4 linked regions of the Homo sapiens genome follow. The protein of the gene in region 4 purifies or fractionates together with the protein of the main gene of each other region. This does not show direct contact. Each region holds a gene or a part of one and is shown on either strand. Other genes may lie near its edges.

Evidence for each region.
Region 1: the proteins of CFAP74 (region 4) and HCN4 purify together in Homo sapiens (co-immunoprecipitation; one large-scale study listed by IntAct). This does not show direct contact.
Region 2: the proteins of CFAP74 (region 4) and KATNIP purify together in Homo sapiens (tandem affinity purification; one large-scale study listed by IntAct). This does not show direct contact.
Region 3: the proteins of CFAP74 (region 4) and SPTB purify together in Homo sapiens (co-immunoprecipitation; one large-scale study listed by IntAct). This does not show direct contact.

What each region holds. Positions count from the first base shown.
Region 1 is NC_000015.10:73,340,446-73,346,178, forward strand, and holds part of HCN4 (potassium/sodium hyperpolarization-activated cyclic nucleotide-gated channel 4), read right to left. Parts: intron 4,740-5,733; exon of another isoform or gene 4,611-4,739; intron 3,364-4,610; coding exon 2,940-3,363; exon of another isoform or gene 2,825-2,939; intron 2,051-2,824; exon of another isoform or gene 1,868-2,050; intron 621-1,867; exon of another isoform or gene 568-620; intron 1-567. UniProt on the Homo sapiens protein: Hyperpolarization-activated ion channel that are permeable to Na(+) and K(+) ions with very slow activation and inactivation. Exhibits higher selectivity for K(+) over Na(+) ions.
Region 2 is NC_000016.10:27,751,754-27,757,486, reverse strand, and holds part of KATNIP (katanin-interacting protein), read right to left. Parts: coding exon 5,563-5,733; intron 3,315-5,562; coding exon 3,236-3,314; intron 1-3,235. UniProt on the Homo sapiens protein: May influence the stability of microtubules (MT), possibly through interaction with the MT-severing katanin complex.
Region 3 is NC_000014.9:64,868,605-64,874,337, forward strand, and holds part of SPTB (spectrin beta chain, erythrocytic), read right to left. Parts: intron 4,075-5,733; exon of another isoform or gene 3,718-4,074; intron 1-3,717.
Region 4 is NC_000001.11:1,963,996-1,969,728, forward strand, and holds part of CFAP74 (cilia- and flagella-associated protein 74), read right to left. Parts: intron 4,839-5,733; coding exon 4,640-4,838; intron 2,532-4,639; coding exon 2,376-2,531; intron 1,067-2,375; coding exon 893-1,066; intron 1-892. UniProt on the Homo sapiens protein: As part of the central apparatus of the cilium axoneme may play a role in cilium movement. May play an important role in sperm architecture and function.

The sequences.
Region 1 (5,733 bases), on a different chromosome or scaffold from region 4:
GTCTGAGGGAGCCAACCTGGTCCTACATTTCCACCTGCGACGGAAACCAGGAGACAAGTGTGTCAGAGCATGAGGGGAAACACGCCTCCATCTTTCCTTCACAGCCCCTCAGAGTGGACCCAGCCGCACCCTCCAGAGTCACTGTCCCCTCTCAGCCCTCAGCTCAGACCACCTGCCACATCTCTGCACATCTCTGTCTCACAGGCACCTCCAACTCAACCTGTTGCACAGATCTCCTCCCCTGCCACTGCCCTCCCACTCTCTGCCAACAGTCGTCCTAGTCCTTTGATCCCAGCGCCCACCCAGGCCAGCACAGGTGGGTGCCCGGCAAGCACTTGCTGGACTGAATGAAGTCCAGTCCCCCATGGAGGGGCCCCAGCCATGAAAGGAAACAATCGTAGAATCAAAGTCATTCCCTTTCCATCTGAGAAGGCGGGAAGTGCATGGAACAGGAAGACAGGAGGCCTAGGCCAAAAGCCCTACCACTGGGGCGGCTGGCCTTTCTGATCTTCAGTTTCCTCACTTGACACATGAGGATCATAAATCTTGCCCTGTTTCTCTTGACAGCTAAGTATGGGGAACCAAGGAAATGTTACTAAGACAACTTGGTGGGGAGGGAGGTAGGTGTGTGTGTGTGTGTGTGTGTGTGTGTGTGTGTATAAATATATATATATTATAAATATAAATAACATCTATTTATTTATTTTTTTGAGACGGAGTTTCACTCTTGTTGCCCAGGCTGGAGTACAGTGGTGCGATCTTGGCTCACTCTGCAACCTCTGCCTCCTGGGTTCAAGCAATTCTCTTATTTCAGCCTCCCGAGTAGCTGGGATTACAGGCGCCCACCACCACGCCTGGCTAATTTTTTGTATTTTTAGTAGAGACGGGGTTTCACCACGTTGGCCAGGCTGGTTTTGAACTCCTGGCCTCAAGCAATCCACCCATCTCGGCCTCCCAAAGTGCTAGGATTACAGGCGTGAGCCACCGCGCCCGGCCAGGAGGGACACATATTAAACAGTTCTTCTGCACCAGGCTTCATGCTAAGGCTTTATAAACATCAGGTACAACTTATACCTATTTTGCAGATAAAGAGACTGAGGCACAGAGAGGCAAAGTGGACCCAAAGCTACATGCTAGGCAGTGTGGAGCCGGGATTTTAACTTGGGTCTTAAATGCGCCATTCCACTACACCGGGGTGGGACAGCCCACACTATGTGCTGGGGGCCAAGAGGGCTAGCTGGATTCTGTCCCAGTTCTACCAGAGGTCTAACTGCATGACCTTGGGAGAGTCACGGCCCCTCTCTGTCAGCATAAGTAATGTGAATTTTCCAAGCCAAAGAGAATTTCTGCCATGGAGGGACGCTGCCAAACTGGTGCACACACTTCTCCTATGGCACATGCGTTCATGACGCCTCTGACCATCAGCCATAGGTGCTGCCAGTCGAGGCCCAGGCTGCTGCTGGGGGTGAGCATGGGGGGCTTCATGTCCTGAACATGGGAACTTCTGCCAGGCAAGCAGGGGGTCCTGGAGGCTGGGAAGTCAGCCACGCGGCACAGGGATGGAGCGGGAAATGGCCCTCCATGGAAGCTTGTCCCGCCCACAGGTGGCAGGGATCCAAGGTGGGCTGTCTCACAGAGAGAGTAGGCCCTCCAGGCTGGCCTGCCTGCCGCTGCTGCCAAGTTGTGTAACTTGGGTGGGTGGCAGACACAGACCGAAGCACTTGGCAAGGTCAGCTGCTCTTCCTCCCAGCAAAGCCCTTAGCTCCTCTGCTGCAGATGACTGCTTCAGCCCATGGATGAGTGAGGTTTGTTCACAATGCAGTTGGTCCGCCCAGTTCTTTTTCAATGTTTTATTTTCCTCCTGTAGCCAGTGTTCACAGCCCCTAGGATCCCTTTACAGTTTCTGAGCACAAGACTCCAACTTGCCCGCGTGATTTCACTCTCTACAGCCAGCGGCCGCACCTTTTGTCAGAGGCCTGCCCGGGCTGCTGGAAACTGCTTTGGCTGTGAGTGCTGAGGGCTGGCAGTGCCTTGAACCAATGACTGACAGGTAAGGGGATATAAACATTCCAACTCCCTTGCCCTGACTGGGACAACTCCAAGGTGTGGCGCACACTATCCTCAGATCCCATAGGGCTGAGGCAAACAGCCATCCACAGGACACCCTCCAATGTCCAACCATTGCTTGGCTTCCTGCCTTTCCCTGTCCCTCTCCCCAGTCCCCTTACCAGATTTTCCTGGGAATGCATCCCCAAAACATCCCTTTCATGCAAATCTTTGTCTCAGGTTCTGCTCAGGAAGAACCCAAACTAAGAGAGTTGCCAACAAAATTTGTATAAAAATCCAGATTTCCATTTCTCATAATGCTATAGATCTAGCAACCCTGGGCCCATTCCCACTTGACAAAAATTAGCTGGAGCTGCATAGAGGCCACCCAATATAACGGAGATGTTCTCTAGTTCTTCTCATCCACCACACTGTCTACTGTCCCCCAACTGGCCCTTTTCACCCATCCCTATTCCCTGCCTGTCCCCAACAAGTTTATGGGTTTACAAACCCTACAACATAACGCAGTGGTTAATAATGTGGGCTCTAGAGGTGATCGGCTTAAGTTCACATTCCAGGTTCACAAATTACTAATCATGCAACCTTGTATAAGTCACTTAATATTTCTGTCTGTTTCTTCAGGTGAAAAATGAGTATATACATGTACCTATATGGTTCCCTCTATAGCTGTTACACACTTCATTGAGATACTGCATGTAAAGTATCCAGCACATGATAAGAGGTCAAGAACTTACTAGTATTTGTCCTCTTGGAGCAGGTGTGCCTGCCACAATCTGACAGCCTATGTTCAATTATCTGAGGTTCCCTGCCAGTTCCTCACTCCCTCTGTGGGGAGTGGCCTTTCCCCCAAGAGGTTTGCACTGACCACTTACCTCTTCCCACTGGTGAATATATCGAATGAGGCGGGAGAGGCGTAACAGGCGTAAGAGGCTGAGGATCTTCGTGAAGCGGACAATGCGCAGGGCCCGGGCAGTCTTGTAGACCTCCGAGTCGATGCGTGTCTCCACAATGAGGAAGATGTAGTCCACGGGGATGGAGGAAATGAAATCTACCATGAACCAGCTTTTCAGGTACTTCATTTTAATCCGCTGCGGGTCCAGGATGATCTCTGTGTTGTCCTCCACCACGATCCCTGTGCGGAAGTTGAGGACCAAGTCGATGAGGAAGAATGTGTCTGACACCACATTGAAGACAATCCAGGGTGTGGTGTTCTCATCCTTGAAGAAGGTGATGCCCACAGGAATGATAATCAGGTTTCCCACCATCAGCAGCAGCATGGTCAGGTCCCAGTAAAATCTGCCCAGAGACACAGGGGTCAGTCGCCAGGAAGAGAGAGAGGACAAGTTACAGACTAAGGGAGGAAGATCTGAGGGACAGCATCTGGGACAGAGAAGTCTTGGGAGGTTCTGAGACAGGAAGACAGGCACATGGGTACCAGGGCAAGATGTGGAGATTGGCACAGGGAATGACACAATAAGAGGCTCTTCATTCACTAAGGATACCCTCCGTGCTGCCCTTCTGTGAGTTTCCCCGAGCCCCAACAACAAGCTTCCTCCTCCCATCCCCAGCCCGCAGTAAGAGTCAGGCTGAAAAGCAAATCAGTGACACTCAGAGAGAAGCAAGAGGCTGTTTTAGCAAAAGGAGCAGCTCACCCCACACCACCCCAGGCTCAGGCTAGGCTGCCCCATCCTCCCTGAGGGTCAGCTGTGGCTTGAGATGGGCTGTCAGGGAGACATTCCACAGACCATGACCAAAGAGCAGGGGAGGTACAGACATGACTCAGGTGCCTGGAAGGCAGGAGGCCCAGGCTCCGGCCCCAGCTTTGTCATCAACATGCTATGTGACATCCGGAAGGGCCTCCCTATTCTGGGCCTCAGTTTCCTCACTGTGTAATGAGTCCTATCATTCTGATCTGGCCCTCTCCCAAACTGGTTCTCTGGCATCCACCTTTAGTCCATCCCCTATAATCAGAAAATGTCTGACCATCTCCTTCCCTCAGAGGTTTGCATCCTAACATGGGGGTGTGGAGGGGGAGAGATAGCTTCAAAACAAGAATAATTAATGGGGGGATTTCAGGCACCAGTGAGATACCACTCAATGTGATAGAAAGAGACCAGCCCAGGGCTTCCAGAATCATTTCTCCTAAGGCCTCAGGCACCTTCAAGTCGTTTGTAGAGGGAGCCTCAGGGCAAAGCCTTGGAGAAGTTGAGCAGCATGAGGAGGAGGCACAACACCAACTCACAGGTCTGTGGTGGGTTTCTCCCAACTCACCAAGCAGGGGGCCTTCTGGAGTGTGGAAACAACACAGGTGGCCAAGACCCCAATCCAGAAGGCATGGCCAGTTATTCCCAGGGACCCTGCCCAAGCACCAGCCATCCCAGGGCTGGCCCCAAGACCAAAAACTTGCACTGCAGAGCTGTTTCCCTCTGCTATTAATTTAGACATTTACACAATAACAGATAAAGGTATTAAGTGAGGCAGAAATAAGCATGTCTTCTCCCAGGAGAAATAACCTTTCCACCATCTTTGATTCTTTACTGCAGGGAAGCCAGGAGGAAGGAAGTGGGAAAGAAAGAGATAAGCTTTCCTCGAGTCTTCAGAGGGTCTCACTGTAAACCAAAGTGCCCCTGCCTGCAGAGTTCCAGGTTGCAAAGAAATTACTTCATAGCAAATTGTTTGTTTGTTTGCCAGACTCAAAATGGGGCTGTGATTCAAGGAGAGGGTAGGGCCTGTTTTGCTGAAGGTGGGTGAGATGGCTGTCCTACATCACACTGTGTGGCAAAGGGCAGTTTCCAGAGAGTCAGCTTTCTGCAGCTCCTTTGAAAGCCAAGCTCTTCAGGGCCTCAAGACAGGGCCTTATGGGGGATAAGGCCGGATGCCAAGAGGCCAACTTCAGCTCCTCTCTACCCCATGACCCACCACTCCTTCCTGTGGCCCCAGTACCCATATGCCAGCTGAGAGAACCCAACTAAGGCCTGAGGACCCATCCTCAGCTTCACACTTTACTACAAAGAATGCAGCACACCTGCTAATGAGTCATGGGCCCCAGGAGGATGGTTTCAGCATCTATGGGGTGCCCTAGAGCCGTGCATGCTCTACCCAGCCACATAGACCTCACTCAAAGACAGCTGTGTACACTCATTAGATGCCACACGCAGGTATCCCCATTCACACACACAGTGCACAAACACCCCTCTATACACTCTGCTGTCATCCCTCTTCATTTAATCTCCTGGGAAAAACAAAAGAAAACAAATTTTTTAACTGTGCATAGAAAGGCCACTGAGGGCTATGTGGCCCTCTGTACATAAAGCTAATAATACACCCAGGCTGGAGGAGTTTCTAAAATTAACAGAGCGGGTGCAAGGCGGCTGGGAATGCTGACTCGGGCGGGCCTGCCACTCCAACGGGTTTCTACACTCTCCCCAGCTCTAGTTCCCTCAATTACAGTCCAAATTTGAGAGAGTAATTAACAGGAGAATGTTTGCATTTTGTGGTCTTCATAAAACCAAATTGCATAAGGCAAAAACACCCATTTCCTCGCACTCTGACTAATGGTTTCAATCTTGAGCTTCCAGATGCTCAGGGATATTTCCAGCACTCGATCTGGGCTGGGGTCGGGATCCTGGATCATTCTTTCCCACAAACCACTACCCTGGAACATCA
Region 2 (5,733 bases), on a different chromosome or scaffold from region 4:
GAAATCATCAGATGAAGGGGACAGTGGCTGCTTCTGCCTGGCCAGCATTCCTGCCTTCCTTCTGGTGACCACACTCTGACCCGCTCTGGAGAACCACCCTGTGCTCGGTCCACACTGTTTGGGTGGCTGACCCCTTTCTCTGGGCTCCAGGCCTGGCCAATCTGTTTTCCATCTCCCACCTCCCGCCCTACCCACCATGGTGAGTCACAGTGGCTGACTTAAGGATGGACATATGAATTAGCCGGGCACGGTGGCACACCTACAGTCCCAGCTACTCGGGAGGCTGAGGCGGGAGGATCTCGTGAGCCCAGGAGTATGAGGCTGCAGTGAGCTGTGTTTGCACTACTGCACTCTAGCCTGGGCCACAGAGTGAGACCCTGTCTCAAAACAACAATAACAGCAAGCAAAGAAAATAACAAAAAAGAGAATGGGTACATGACTCAAGCTAGGCCCAGAGATCTAATTCTGGGATAGTAGTTGCAACTATTGGGATTCAGGAAAACAGAAGTTGTCTTTCATCTGGGACTGCTGGGTAGAAAGGAGGCATAAACTGGAGCTTCCAGGACTTTCCACATGGATGGTGTTGAATGGGAGAATGTCAAGAGACGAAAAGAAAGCAGGGAGAGGGAGGCAGACACCATGTCTTGATGCCATCATTTTCGTAACTGAACGCAGCTGTGTGGAAACTGACGACCCCTAACTTCTAGTTGCATAAGCCAATAAGTTCCCTTTTTTGCTGAACTCAGCTTGAATTAAATTTCCATTATTCATCCCCTGCCAAAAAAAAAATCCTGACCAACTTAGGGGAGAACCAAATTGAATAAAAAACGATGGCTGTCTTTTGGGACCTCACAGCTTCATGGGGGACACTGACTCTTGCACACAGGCTTCTGATGTGAGGTGCTCTCCCAGTGGCAACCCTAAGGCAATCTGCTAGTGTGGTGAGGATGTGGGCTTTGGATTCAAACACCTTTGCTTGCACTCCCAGCTTCCGTACTGGCCGTGTGACCTTAGGTAGGTGACTCCATCTCTCTGAGCCTCAGCTGCCTGATCTCATGGAAAACAGAGCTAGGAGTGTTACAGCGAGATAAGGCAGAGAAAGCCCAGCACAGTGCCTGTCTGGGAGATGAAACCAAGCCTCAACCCAGGCTCTTGCCTAATGTTAGGTTGGCCTTTAAAACTGCTGCTATTCGAAAGTAATTGAGAGTGCGCCCTGGAATGTAAGGGGCTATGAGAATTCCAAATAAGGCACCTTCCTCTAAGGCACCTTCTAAGAGATCATTGGTCATTTTGGAGTAGGTGAAGGAGAGATGAATTTTCACAGGGGATGATAGAGAAGACTCCTGGGGAGGAGATGCGGTCGCAGAAGGGCCATAAGGGAGGGGATGTGGAGCTCACTTAGGGCACTGCTCAGACCCCACCTCCCACCCCCAGGAACAGAAGGACTTAGTCCTCTGGTGGCGGGAAGTGCTGACGGCTGGCAGCTCACCACTGAGGCTCTTGACTTGTGACTGCCCTTGGCTGAAGAGAGTCTCCTTGCAAAAAGCCATGTCCGGCTGGGCACAGTGGCTCATGCCTGTAATCTCAGCACTTTGGGAGGCCAAGGTGTGTGGATCACCTGAGGTCAGGAGTTCGAGACCAGCCTGACCAACATGGTGAAACCCTGTCTCTATTAAAATTACAAAAATTAGCCGGGCGTGGTGGTGGGCACCAGTAATCCCAGCTACTTGGGAGGCTGAGGCAGGAGCTCTCTTGAACCTGGGAGGCGGAGGTTGCAGTGAGCTGAGATCATGCCACTGCATTCCAGCCTGAGCGACAGAGTAAAACTGTGTCAAAATAAATAAATACAAATTAAAAAGTAAAATAAAAAGCCATGCCCCTCCCCAGGGGCAGCCCATAGCCAGTGCCATGTTGATACAGATAAAGACATGGCCCCTCACTCAACTCAGGATGACCCCAAAGGGCCATCCCAGGTTCCGAGCTCCCTGTGGAGCAGGCTGAGGCCTTGAAGTGGCTGAACCGCAGACCAGCTTCTCCCTCTGCCCAATCCTGCCTCCTACCCTTCCCTGACAAGAGCACACCCCAGGAAACTCCATCTCAGGGTCTGTGTCTAGGGAACCTAGCCAGCGACAGGTGGTCGTCAGAAGGCAGAGATGGAGCAGGGAGGCATCCTAGGTGGAAGGTGTGGCTTGCACAGGTGCCTGCAGGTGGACTCCAGAGATGGCATGGGGAGGTCCCGGAAGGGCTGACACCAGGATTCGGAGAGGCTCCAGCTTCATTTTGGAGATGAGGATGGGGAGGTGGGGAGGGGATCCTGACAGTGTCACATCTTTTGTCTCAGAAGATAAAGTAGAAGCGGGTCACATTCACAGGGGGCAGGAGAGAGCAGGAAGTGAGGCTGCCAGGAACCTGGTTAGCAGGGTGCAGGAGGGAGGAGATCACAATCAGCAGTGACCTTGGGCTTGAAGATTCCCCAGGACGGGGAGGGGCTGATGTGGACACGCATGGATGAAGAGAGGAACTGGCTGGAAGGATCAATGGAAAAGAAGGGTGAGGAACAGGCCCAGCAGAAAACCCCTGGGATTTGCTCAGAAGTCACAAACTGGCAGCCAGCTGGCCAGATACACAATAAGTGTTTTATTTGGCTCATGTGATATTTTAAAACATGAGAAAATTCGTTACACACATTTGAGAATCTGGAGACTTCACGTAAGACTCTAGATTTCCGACTTCTTCTGAAAAGTCAGAAGACCTGGTACCCTGGGCCTGTGCACCTGCCCCCACCCCCGGGGCAGAGTGGATGCAGGTTTTCTCTGCCTGTGCATCTACTCTTTGGTGGAGTTGGAAGAGACAGCTCGGGGCACTGCACCAACAGATGCCTTGGGTCTCTTCAGGCTCTAATGTCCTCTTGTTCTACACTTTCTGGGTGCCAACTACACCTCCTGGGTCAGGGTCATGGTCACAGCTAACACATAGGGTGTCTGCATGCAAAAATGCCCCTCAGGGAAGGCAAAATGCTAAGAGATGCCCCTCCTCTGGAGTGAGGTGGCCCTGCTAGGGCCAGGGAGCTGAGCGCAGGCTGGTTTCAGCCTCCACTTGCCCCATGGCCTGGTGTCTCTGTACAGTGTCCAACCCACCCGATTGTCCAGCGAAACCCTGTCCCAAGTGGCCACAACTCCCCCTGTCCCTGGAAGGTCCTCCTTCCACCCAACACTGCTCCAGGAGAGCTACTCACAGATTCCGTGGTAGATGCCTGGCTCTGGCGTGGTGACTTGGGGGACAGGGGAACTGGATGGGAGCTCTAGCTCCGGGATCTGCACATGGGTTGGAGAAGCAGAGGAAAAGGGGGTGGTTTTAGTGATACCCACACAGCTAGCTGGCTGGCTGTTTCTGCATTTACCACTGCCCACCCTATGCCCAGGTAAGTCCTTGTGTGTTTTCCTGGATTTTTCTGCCTTTGTGGAAGCTATGGGACCAGTGATATGGGCGGACCCTGACCCTCCAGGGTCTGCATCCTTGTCAGCAGCTCTCACTGGCTGGGGAGGAGCCTGATGCTAACAGCTAAGGTGTTTAAATTTCCTCCAACAGGGAAGGACTCAATAAATGCTTATGTGGTGAGCTAGAGGAAGAAAGAAAGGAAGGAAGGAAAGGAGGAGGAAGGGAAGAAGAGAAGGAAGGGAGAGAGGAAGGAAGGAAGGAAGGAGGAAAGGAAGGAGGGAAGGAGGAAAAGAAGGAAGGAGGGAGGGAGGGAGGGAAGGAAGGAAGGAAGGAAGGGGAAGTGGAAGAATTCAAACCATAGAGAGTGGCTCTTAACTTTGGCTGTTCACTGAAGCAGAATCTCTAGGGGTGGGGCCCAGACATTTTTAAAGATCCACCCAAGTGATTTCCACGGGTAGCCAGGATAAAAAATCCTGGTCTTCAGAGAGTCAACGGTGGGCCACCACACCCTTCTTGGGCCTTACATATAAACTATTTGCTCATTGTCTCTTTGCACCATAAGTGAAGGCGCTGGTCTCTCACGAGACTGAGAGAGTGATCCCCCCAGCCCCTCACAGCGCTGGGCCCATCAGAGTCCCTTACGAGCACCTTTGTCATTTGGAAAACGCTGGGCAAATGGAAGCGCCCAGGGTAGACTCCCACCTGGAGACCCCTGGGTCGAATCAGGAGCACAGGCACGGCTTGTGGCCCAAAAAAGGTTTGAACACATCTGAATTCACTGCCAGCATTTTTAAATGGAGAGGTTTTACAGAAAAATCCAGCTTTCTGGCTTCTCTTGTAAAAATCAGGAGAACTGGCAACAATGGGCTTGCCCCTCTTGGTGGCCGCTTTCCTTAGATGTGGGGAGGGGGAGGGGCACGCACTCCCCAGCTGCCTGTGCCTCCCCATGCCCTGCTCCTGCACCCCATGCTCTGCCTGGCTGCGAGGTACAATCCCCAGGGAACACCATGGGGTCCACACGACATGTTGCTGTCCTGCCTCAGTCATGACCTTCCCACAGCCCAGCCCCATCCCTTGTGGCTTGTGTTGTCCCCATTTCTCCCCTACCCTGTTTAACCATCTCCTCTTTTTCCTATTGGTCCTGACTTGAATTGACCTTGAAGGTCATCTTTCATTTTAAAAGATTTGTTTATCTGGCTAAGTGTGGCGGCTCTTGCCTGTAATCCCAGCACTTTGGGAGGCCAAGGTGGGAGAAGCGCTTGAGTCCAGGAGTTCATGACCAACCTGGGCAACATAGCAAGACCACATCTCTACAAAAAATAAAAAAAAAACTAGCCAGGCATGGTGGCATGCACTGTAGTCTCAGCTACTCAGGAGGCTGAGGTGGTAGGATTGCTTGAGCCCCGGGAGTTTGAGCTGCAATGAGCTATGATCACGCTAGTGTACTCCAGCCTGGGCGACAGTGCCAGGCCCTATCTCTAAACAAAATAAAAAAATAATAAGTTGCTTACCAATTAAAAGCATAAACTGTGGAATCACGCATTCAAGTTCTACCCTTGTTTCTCTGTCACAATGTGCCCTTGGGCAAGTCACTTGACTTCTCTGAGCATCAGTTTCCGAAATGGCAATGTTAATAGTCTCTACTCAGAGGGTTGTCATGAGGGTGAAACAAGAACACTGTGTACCCTGCTTGGATCATGATATGTGTTCATGAAACCATGGCTGTGATGATCATTATTTTAACTGTAACTCTGCCTATGAAAAGCATTCCTAGTCCTTCCATCAAAAACAACAGTGAATGATCAAAACGCAACCCCAAGCAAAAACTCCCCCCAGACTGCCAACCTCTGAATTGCAGAGATGACACAGAGCTCATTTCTCCTGGCTTTGATTAGAATTTGAATACTTTCTTTACTTCGGTTAAAAAAAAATAAAAAAATAAAAATAATTAGAGAATGAAATATGACATAGAGGACAAAAAAACAAAGTAGAAAGATGGGAAATGTCAACACAGTGGCACCAGCAGCTTAAAGGATATCCATCTTAATTCTCCCTGCTCTACTCTGAGTTAGGGGAAGAAACCTATCTGGGGGTCCCCCCACAGCCCCCCAGCTCCAGTCCTACCCGTTCATCAGCCCCCAAGCCAGCCTGGGTGAAGGGCCGCTCATCCCCCTCGCCGTCGGCCGTGCTGGGCCTCCTCATTGCCTCTTCATCCTGCAGGCTGTCCAGGCTCCCCACATCCAGGTCAAACATCTCATCAGAATAGAATATGGCCTCGAGAATGTCATCATCGGT
Region 3 (5,733 bases), on a different chromosome or scaffold from region 4:
GAACAGCAGCAAATGCAGCAGCAGTGGTAAACAAGCTAGGAGGGAAAAAAGGAGGGCCCAGGTCACAGAAGCCCAGAGAGGGCAGAGGTTCAATGGGAGACTGGTCAAATGTTGTGGAGAAGTTGGAAACCTCGGGTATGGAAGGAGGCTATTGCATTTGACAATAATTCCGACCTTTTCTAAAGCGGTTTTGGTACAGCTGCCTTATGAGAGTGGGTATATTGTGCAGTACTAATTAGCATCTCCATCCTTAGATGTCAAATAACTACATTGGAAGTAGGATTCAGAACATTAATTATTTATTAAAAGCTAATAAGGGGATTCAAGTCTATTAGGTTTAGTCATTGCAAATATAAAGCAATATATAAAGGTATGCAACTAATTACCTCTGTAATTTCAAATCATTAAAGATGCAGGATTAAAAAAAAAAAAAAGAAACGCTGAGAATTAAGAGTCATGTAGTGTTGGCTTCCACCCCAATATGAGCAGGCACAGTGGTTCAAAGCAAGCACTCTAGAATAAACACACATGGGTTCAAGTCCAGCTATTACCTTACTTGGTGGGTATTCATGGGTAAGTTAACTTTTCCAAGTCTGATTGTAAATAATAAATACACATGAAAACTCTCAGCATAGTGCTTACCACATAACTTTCTCAATAAATGTTGACTTACTGTTATAATAAACTTATTAGCATAACAATGCCTTGTATCCAAGTTAAAATTATATGAACTTAGTTACGTGTAATTTCAAACATTCATTCTTTAATTTTTTATGAGCTCCACACTCTAACCAACTGAGCTAACTGGCCACATGATTCTTTATTCTTTTTTAAATTTTTAATTAATATATTTATTTTGAGATGGGGTCTCACTTTGTAGTCCAGGCTGGAGTTCAGTGGCATGATCGTAGCTCACTGCAGCCTTGAACTCCTGGGCTCAAGCAATCCTCTGGCCTCAGCCTCCTAAACAGCTGGGACTACAGGTGTGAGCCACTGTGCTTGGTCAGATTTTTTAAATTTTTTTTTTTTTTTTTTGAGACAGGGTCTCAATCTGTCACCCAGGCTGGAATGTAGTGGCACAATCATGGCTCACTGCAGCCTCAACTTTCCTGGGCTCACGTGATTCTCCCACCTTAGCCTCCTGAGTAGCTGGAACTACAGGCACGTGCCACGATGCCCTGCTTTTTTTTTTTTCTTTTTAATTTTTGTAGAGACAGGTCTTGCTATGTTGTCCAGGCTGGTCTCAAACTCCTGGGCTCAAGCGATCTGCCCACCTCAGCCTCCTAAAGTGCTGGGATTATAGGCATGAGCTGATGTTTCCAGCCTAATTTTTTAATCAACAAATATTTCTGAGCCACTCCCCTCCATGTATAAAACATGGCTCTAGGTGCAGAGGTTTTGTTTTGTTTTGTTTTTAAGCATGAGACTCAGTTCCCCATTGCAAGAAGCTTGAACTAACAGTGTAGAAGGCAAGTTGACAATTACAAAACAAGATGATCCACCTGTAAGAAAGGAGTGAAAAGGGTACTGTAAAAATACAAAGGAGGAAGCAATCAGCGCTACCCCAGGACCTGGTAAGGAAGAGGGGCTGTCAGGCAAGGTTACAAAGAGAAGGCAACATGTAAGTTTTACAGAGGAATCCACAAGGAAAATTTTAAGGATAATAATAAATGTTAAGGCACCATCACAATCACACACACAAAAAGCCCTGAAAAAAAAAAAGTCAGAGAAAGAGGAAGTTCTTCACCCAAGGGCAAACAGCAAGAGGAAAGGAGCTGGAAGCAACCCAGACTCTTGTCATCCAGCTCAAGGAGATTTTTTAGCTGAAATAAAACATCGCATAATATTTACACCCTTCCCCACCTGAGCTTGGGCTACATGCTCTACAAAGCAAATTAAACATCACCTGCCTGTCCTCTAAAAGTCTACAATCTAAAAACAGGCACACTAATAAATGAACAAATTCAAGAACTTTGATGACGAACTATCACCCAAAGACAGTGTTCTGAAACAAACACTTCTCAAGTTCAGTTTGGCCCCCAAAATGAGGATAATAAATTTTTGCCCTTCCCTTTGGAGATGTTAAATACCAAGGGGAAATATTAAAATTGCATGGACGGGTTCCTTAAAAGATTATAAATAGAATTACTATGTGATCCAGCAATTTCACATCTAGGTATATGTCCAAAAGAAGTGAAAGCAAGGTCTCAAGGAGATATCTGCCCACCCATGTTCACAGCAGCATTATTCACAATAGGCAAGAGTAGAAGCAACCCAAGTGTCCATAGACAGATGGAGGGAGAGGGAATGGAGAGTTAGTGTTTAGTGGACACAGTGCTTGTGTTTTGGAAGATGAAAAACGTCCATCTTTTTCATGATGATGGGGAGGGATGATGGTGATGGCTGCACAGCAATGTGAATGTGCTTATGCCACTGAACTGTATGTACACTTAAAAATGGTTAAAATGGTAAAATTTATGTCACATATATTTGAGCAAATAATACACATATACAAAGAAAGTTAATAAAAGAATTTGTGATTATGTTCAAATAGGGTGCATGTATCTAGCCCTAATTTAGCAAGTTTGAAGAAGGGAGAGATTACTGTGGAGTGGAGTGTTCCAGGACGAAGACACAGCCTCGAACCCAAGTTCTGATGGAAAACACTCCAAATCTGGGAGAAATGGTCAGGACTCAGTAAGCAGAAGTGGACAAACTTAGTTTAAGTAGAGGGTTTGTGATGGAAAGTGGTAAAAGAGTAGAAAAAAAGAGACTGGTGCCAGAATAGAATGGCTCCTTAAAAGCCAACTTTATGAGTTTGGATTTCTACCTCTACCCAGAGAAGAACCACTGGTGGCTTTTGAGAAGGGGTGTTATATGATGAACACAGTGGTTCAGTGTGGGATGGTTTGGAGAGGGAGATCCTTAGTTGATAGAAAGTGGACTCCAGGTCGCTTAACTTGAGGGCTACCAAGGTGACTACAAAGTCTACTAAATCTGAAACCTAACACGTGGTGCTGCTAGCTTAAAGCTATGACTTTAAAATGTATCAGGCCAAATGCTTGCACATGAATGGAATTCTTCTCAAAGCATACACAGAAACTGTTGACAGTGGTACCTTCTTAGAAATAGGGCTGAAGTTAGGAGAAGACTTTTACTCTTCATTGTATACCCTTGTATAATATGGATATATGTTTTAACCACGTACATGAGTTTATTTTATAATTTAAAAAGTTTTTTAAATATGACAACCAGGAAGCATCAAAAAATATTTGGGCTTTAACCAGCCAATTCAAAACATTTCTAAAAATAAAGTGAAATATATTTCAATCTTGTTTCTCCCATATCTTAATCTCCATCACATAGTATAAACGTTGTGGGACTGATCTAAAAGTAACAGTACAAAGTACACAGCACATCTAAAGCTTCGCTTCAAACAGATGTCATGAATCATCCCAAAATAAAAACATCTCCTTTTTGGTGTATTTAAATGAAAAGTCTGCCAAGACTATTCCAAGTCAACACCTCGACAAAAACAGAAATTAAAAAAAAATAGCCCATGGTACATTTGATAAAATACATCACCATCTCAGTAAACGACCTTTTTGTTCATCCAGTTGTTCAGGCCAAAAACAATGGAATCATCTTATTCTTTTTCTCTCATCCTCTATATCCAAATCTCATAATCTCTATACTCAGAACCCAACTGCATCTCACCAGGACTATCATCCTGATCCATCCTCTCGTCCTGAACCACCGCAGTAGCTTTCATGGGACTCCTTGCCTCCACTCTTGTGCCCCACAATCAATCCTCCTTAGGGCCGCCAGAAAGATCTGCTTGAGACACAAATCCCAACAAGTCACTCCCCTGCCCACAACTTCCAGTGGCTTCCTATGACACTTGGACTAAAACTCAAAGGTCACAAAGCCTGCACCATCAAGACCCGCTTTTCTCTCCAGCACTGTGGTTAGCTCTCCCCATGACACCCTGCACTCAGGCCACACTGGCCTCTTTGCTATTGCTTGGACACAGCAGTGGCCCCACGTTGGGGGCTTCCCATTTGGTATGGTTTGTCTGTGTCCCCACCCAAATCTCATCTTGAATTGCGGCTCCCATAATCCCTGCATGTCGTGGGAGGGACCCGGTGGGAGGTAACTGAATCACGGGGGTGGGTTTTCCTGTGCTGTTCTCGTGATAGTGAAGAAGTCTCATGAGATTTGATGGTTTTATAAAGGGCAGTTCCCCTGAACATGCGCCTGCCACCATGTATGACATGCCTTTGCTCCTCCTTTGCCTTCTGCCATGATTGTGAGTCATCCCCAGCCATGCTGAACTGTGATTCAATTAAACCTCTTTCCTTTATAAATTACTCAGTCTCTGGTATGTCTTTATTAGGAGTGTGAGAACAGACTACCACTCAACCTGAATCTCTTCTCCCAAACATCCCATGCCTCTCTCCCCACTTCATTTGAGTCTCAGCCCAAATGAAGCCCCATCAGATAGTGTTTTCCCAACCACCCTACCTGAAATAGTAGAACCACCCTTCTTTCCCTTCATATTGCTTTATTTTTCTTTTTAGCACTTGAAATTACAATATATATTTTTGTCTGTTGCTTGTCATTTAGTTCCTCTCTCCCCCAACTACAATGTGCACTCTACGACTTCAGACATTTTTGCCACATTCACTGTTACATTCCCTGGGCCTACAGCATGTCTGGCAAATTAAATGAGAACTCAGTAAATATTTGTTGAAGACTGACATACAAATCAAGGCCCTCAAGATCACTGGACAAAAAGAGGCTGCTGAAGTCCAAAATGAAGCATAAGCACAATAATGCCCAGTAAATTTGGGGTAAAGGAATGAAAAACCCAAAACATCAATTAACGGGCAGATGAACCCTTCATTTATCTATGGCATGCTACTGAGAATCCATTAATTCATGCTTTGGAACAGCATCTGTGCATACTCTGGAGGGCCATTCTTGAGGTTCTGTGGCTATGGTAAAGGGTAATACCATTAACAAGTGTCTTCTCTCCAGAACCAATGAACTTATGTGGAATATTCTGCTGAAGAAAAAAAGCAACCGCGGTCTCAACCAGAAGGCCCAGAATATTCAATTACTCCACTGAGAAGACCTGGAAACAGCCCCAGCCTCAGAACTAGGCAACTGGGTCAAAGTCAGGTTTTGGAATAAACTACTAGAGGGACATTGAGTATATAAATGTACATTTCTAATCCTGTTTTGTAACTGGAAACCAGGAATAATCAGATCTTCCCTTCACATGCTCATCATAAGATAAAATAAGATGATGTGTAGACAAAGGCATGCTGAAAATTGAGTGGACTATAGTTATCTGTGATCATCATCTTGTACTGGCTGGGATCTAATTCACTTTCTCTTCACTGCCACTGGTGAGCTTTGTCAACAAAGATTTCATCACACCCCTTTATGACTTAAAAACTTCCAGTGGCTCAAACTTCTTCACAGGCTGAACCCCAACCACCTTTCTGGTCACACTTCTGCCATGTGGAACTACACTTCATCCCCTAACCTAATCATGCTTTATTGTCTGTGCTGGGCAATTTCCTAAAGCCCCACTCGCAGGCCCCCTCATCCTCCCTTCTTCCATTATAGAAATCCTAGGCACTTTCAAAGGTCTTCTCATTCCCCAACCTGAATGAGATGTTTCCTCCTGTACACCCTCTCTCTCAGGCATCCTGTTGAATCACT
Region 4 (5,733 bases):
ATTTCCAAGGTTTCTCCCAGAATCGAGAAGGCCCCTGGGGTGCATGAAGGACAGGTCTGGGGGTGGAACCTGTCACATAAGAGCCTTCGCCACTTGAGGCAGGACAGGGCCTTGCTGGGGCCCGCAGGTGGGAGTAAGAGAAAAGGCTCAGACACTGTGGGTTCCAAGGTGGGTCCCTGACTCCATGGATGGACTTGAGCTGGGGTCAAATACAGGAGCCCACAGCCTGCTCTGTCTTGCAGAGTTTGGCAGAGGCGTCCAGGCACCAACCTCAGCCTCACATGTTCCCACCCTGTCCCTGCTACATCCCTGTCCCGAGGTTCAGGGGACCCCCACTGCCCCAAGTGGCACAGGGCTTTCGGGGCCACGGCACCCCCATTGCTCAGACTGGCGTCCAGCCCTCCATGGGGATGGGGCCCTCTCCCTCCACCTCCTGGAAGAGAAGGTCCACACTTGGGCCTGTGCCTCCTGAGGAAGCCCCCGGGTTTTCCAGCGTTAAAAAGCGAAAGGCAGGCCAGGCGCAGTGGCTCATGCCTGCAATCCCAGCACTTTGGGAGGCTGAGGCGGGCAGATCGCCTGAGGTCAGGAGTTCGAGACCAGCCTGGCCTACATGGTGAAACCCCGTCTCTACTAAAAATACAAAAATTAGCCAGGCGTGGTGGCAGGCGCCTGTAATCCCTGCTACTCGGGAGGCTGAGGCAGGAGAATCGCTTGAACCCAGGAGGCGGAGGTTGCAGTGACCTGAGATTATGCCGTTGCACTCCAGCCTGGGCGACAGAGTGAGACTCCATCTCAAAAAAAAGCAAAAGGTGTCAGGGGTTGGGCTGCGGCAGGGCTCCCCTGCTGTCCTGTGCTGCTGCCCGTCCCGTTCCTGGCCCAGCTGCGGGCTCACCTGGAAGTGGAGGAGCTCCGGTTTGCTGTTGAAGGGGCGTCCTTGGAACTCACGCCCCCACACCACCTGCTTGTGGACCACCCTGCTCCGCAGCCGCTCCACCGTGCGCTCCAGGATGTCCTTGTCCATCTTTGTCCCGCCCACGGGCTTTCGGTCCACGTCCTCCTTGGGCACCTGGGGGTCACAGAGACAGAGGCTGGGGCTGTTAGCGGCTCCACCTGGGCGGCGCCGGTGGCAGCTCGGAGGCGAGGGTAGCGGTTAGCAGAGCACGGACAGCCCAGCCCCACCGGCTGCCACCAGCGCTGGAGCTGGGAAGAGCCCCATGGCCCGGGGAGTTGCTCTGAGTTGCTCAGAAAGGCCCTGGGGACCGACTGACTTTCTGCTCCATTGACAAGGCAGGGACCCCTCACTTCCAAAAAAGAGGAAACCAGGAAACAAGAGCAGACAGCTCCAGATTCAGGTGGATTTCTGGGAAATGATGTGGAGGGGGAACTTTCCAGATTGTTAAATCAGGACAAGAGGAAGGTTTTGAAAGGTTCTGCAGGAAGCAGTTTTCTCGAGCGGGCAGTGTCAGCACACACTGGGCTTTCTCAGATGAAAAGCCGCTTCCCTGGCCAACACCAGCAACCAGGAAGATCAGAACTGGAGTCCTGAACTGTCCCTTCAGAAGCTGCTTGGACTCTGCGTGGGTCCTGGCTCTGGGCTGTGGGCTGTCCCTGCTGGTGCCCATGCCCGGCAGCCGGGCAGCCTCCTCCCTGGCTTCCCGGGGTGGGGGGGGCACTTGGCACCCTCCTCTTGTCCAGAGGCAGCCTTCTCCCTTGGGTGTCCCCAGTGGGCAGGTGGTGGCTCTGCCTGGCCTGTCTTGTTCACCACCCTGGTCAGCCCGGCATCCCCAGAACCAGCAGAACCAGGTGGCTTTTGCCCTGACAGTAGAGGTGGCCAATGCTTACAGAAACCGGGCGGCGGGCATTGCCCTCCCACGTGGGACAGGGCCACAGCCTGAGCCACACTGCTGCAGAGACCGTGTCTTGCTGTAACTGCTCTTTCAGAGGCAGAAGGACCCCAGCGCCAGATGGGGCATGTTTCTTACAAAAGGCCGTCAAAGAAAGTTTGCACGCTTCTTCTAGAAAGATGCTTCTCCAATAGTACACGGAGTAGCTCAGAGTCATTCCCTCAGCCTTTCAGCTTTGGAGCCCCACCGTCCCTCCCCGTTACACCATGGTGACCGAGCTGTCTGTCAGGGGGAGCTTGGGGTCGTCGAGCACGCGTGGTGCCCTCCAGGCTCCGCGAAGAGGGAAAGGCATGAGTGTGGAGAGGGAGGCGGGGGGCGTCCACACACAGGAGAGGGTGGCGGGAGATGGCAGGCACAGCCAGGAGAAGCCTCAGAGCAGCTGGTGTGGCCGGGGCAGGCGTGGGAGGTGGCGAGCCGGCGACAGAGGGCCGGGGTCCGTCTGCAAGCGTCTAAAGGAGCAGGAGCTGATACCTGGTATGGCTTGTAGTCTTCATTCCAAAGCCCAGAGATCTCGGGCTCAGCTAACGTTTCCTCCTCTGAGCTGGCCCCGGGGTCCCCCTGGATAAGCTCACTGGAAACGACTTCCAGCAACCGAGAGGGCCCGGGGCCTGCAGCAGCCTCGTAGTCCTGCAGTCGGGGAGAGGAACATCGCAAAGACACGCTCATGACAGAGAACAGGGAAGAGAAACTCGGCCCAGCCCCCGCCGGTATGGCCCGCTGCCTGCCCCCGTTCTTCTGCCTCACGTACTCTGCATGGAGATAGCGGTGCACACGGTTTTGTAACTTTTTCTACTTGAAATATAAGTATTTTAATACATTATTAAATATTTTTCTACAATGCTCAGAAGAGTCTGCAAAATATTTCCTTTGATAGGAAAATGTTCTAATTCACGGACTGGCATCCTTGGCGCCGATCCTCAGGCACTCATCTGTTCTCATTTTTTTTTTTTTTTTTGAGACGCAGTCTTGCACTGTCACCTGGGCTAGAGTGTAGCAGCGCGATCTCAGCTCACTGCAACTTCTATCTCCCGGGTTCACATGATTCTCCTGCCTCAGCCTCCCGAGTAGCTGGGATTGCAGGCGCCCGCCACCACACCCAGCTAATTTTTTGTATTTTTAGTAGAGATGGGGTTTCACTATGTTGGCCAGGCTGGTCTCGAACTCTTGATCTCATGATCCACTCACCCTAGCCTCCCAAAGTACTGGGATTACAGGTGTGAGCCACCGCGCCTGGCGCAGTTCTCATTTCTGTGGATATAAGCCATGCCCGGGAAAAGCCCCAGGCTGACCCCAGGAGGATGGCTGTGGTGGTTTCCTCAGAATGAGTTTGGGGACGGAGCCTTGCCTATCTGCTCTGGCTCTGTCCCAGGCCTGCTGGAGAAGGGGGAACTGGGCCGGGTAGACAGGGTTCTTCTTCCTGGGGACCGTCCTATGGAGCGACAGACAGGAAGTCTGGACGGGGCCAGCGCATTGCTGTTACTGTGACCTGTATAGTGCCACAGGTGGTGCCACAGAAAATCGCAGGGAGCAGCTCACGGGTGGGGGTGGGGGCAGGGGAGGCTTCTCTGGAGCAAGGAGGCGCAGCAGGGTGCTCCTGGCGGAGGGATCGGCGGGTGCAAAGGCCCCGGCGTGAGACGGGCAGTGAGGGGTGGATGGGGCAAAGGCTCAGCCCAGGCACTGGGAGCCTGGGTAGCAGGAAAGGACCTTCTCTGGTGCCCTGAAGGGCACCGCAGAGACCCTGTGGAGGCCAAAGCTGAGGCAGCCCAAGGCTTTCTCTTTCCCAGCAGGGCATCGGTTGCAGCAGTGACCTTGACCTTCAGGTTTTGGGGTACACAAGGGCAGAGACTGCAGCACTGTGCCAGACTCAGGAGAGGACCATCGTCCCTACCCCACACCTTTAGGGAAAGGTAAACTAGAAATACATTCCCCCAACTGAAGCCAGTTGCCTGCAGCAGCAGTGGACACCAAGCAGGCCCTGGATGTGAGTGAGTGAGTGAATGAGTAAGTGAGTGAATAAGTGAATGTGTGAGTGAATGAATGAATGAGTGAATCAGTGAGTGAGTGAATGAGTGAATGAGTAAAGAATGAATGAGTGAATGAGTGAGCGAATGAGTGAATGAATGAGTGAATGAGTGAATGAATAAGTGTATCAGTGAGTGAGTGAATGAATGAGTGAATGAGTAAAGAGTGAATGAGTGAATGAATGAGTGAATGAATGAAGAATGAGTGAGTGAATGAATGAAGAAAGAATGAGTGAGTGAACGAATAAAGGATGAGTGAGTGAATGAATGAGTGATAGGAAAGCTGTCCTCTAGGTGCTATCAGGAGTGCTTTGTAGCAGGGTGATCCCAGGCATGTGGTCTGAACGGCTGTGCACATCTCCCTGGCAGGCGGCTGACCCAGCTCTACAGGGCCAGGCAAGGTGGTCCCAGCCTGGTGGGCAGCAACACTGCTGGGGGTGACGCAGGGTCTGGTGGGCACACCGAGACCAGGAGGACACTGGACCCTTGCTGGGGATGCTGCGGCCATGGGCCTCTCTCATGTGGTGGGTCCGTAGTGTGTCTTGTCCCCTTGTCCTTGAGCTGAGTGGCGGCCACTCAGCGGGCTCAGCAACCCCCTGCAGGTGGCCATGGTGCTGAGGTCCTCAGAGGATGTCTCACCACACCTGAGCCCTGAGGCCCCACCTGCCCTCCACAGGTGTGCGGCTTCTGTCTACAGGAAGGCGTTTTGCTCACCAGTGTGTACGTGTTGGTTGGGACTGTGGTCTTCTTGCAAAAGTCAGAAATGTAGTTCCAGGTCTTGTCCCTCAGGGTCAGCCGGTGCCTGGCACTGGTGGGGGGATGCTGTTTCTTCCTCTTTTCCTCCTCAGCCTCCTCTTTCAGAATCCGACTGATGATCTCCTGCTTTCTGAGCTTCTGCTCCTCCTCAAAGGCCCTGCGTGGAGTCGCTTCTCAGATGAGTGCAAGAGGTCCCCTGCCTCCACCTTGCCCCAGATGAGACAGTGCCCGGCGGCCCCTCCCTAGCGCCCTCCTGGGGGCTCCGGTCCTGCCCAGCAGCCCCAGGTGAGACAGCGCCTGGCGGCCCCTCCCTAGCTCCCTCCTGGGGACTCCATCCTACCCAGCAGGGCTCTTGGGGTGGGAACTTCCTGGTCCTGGAGCTAAACGCAAGCTCCAGTGGGAAGCAGATGGGCAGAGGCCAAGCCAGAGGTTCCAGGCTTAAACCCCAGCCCTGCCCTGCCCAGTCCATCCCTGCCAAGCCCAGTCCTGCTCAGTCCTGCCCAGCCCTGCCCAGCCCTGCCCAGCCCAGCCTAGCCCTGCCCAGCCCTGCCCTGCCCAACCCAGCCCTGCCCAGCCCTGCCCAACCCAGCCCTGCCCTGCCCTGCCCAGCCCAGGCCTTCCCAGCCCAGCCCTGCACTGCCCAGCCCTGCCTTGCCCAGCCCTGCCCTGCCCAGCCCAGCCCAGACCTTCCCAGTCCAGCCCTGCCAAGCCCAGCCTTGCCCAGCTTAGCCCTGCCCTGCCCAGCCCAGCCCATCCCTTCCAAGTCCAGTCCTGCCCAGCCCTGCCCAGCCCAGCCCTGCCCGGCCCAGCCCTGCCCACTTCGCAGCCCAGTCCCCCAGCAGCCTTGGCTGCCCGGAGGGCTTCTTCCAAGCCCTTATTTCTAGGCTGGCGTGGGGCTGCCACTGAGAGTAGCACCAGGGCTAAAGATGTTCATCCACTCACTGCAGCTGCACTTCCCGGGTGCCTCCTACATGCCAGGCCTGCGCCAGGCTAAGGGATGTATAGGCGGTGGAGCTGCTGCCAGGACCCCCCCGCCCAGGTGGGCAGGCTGA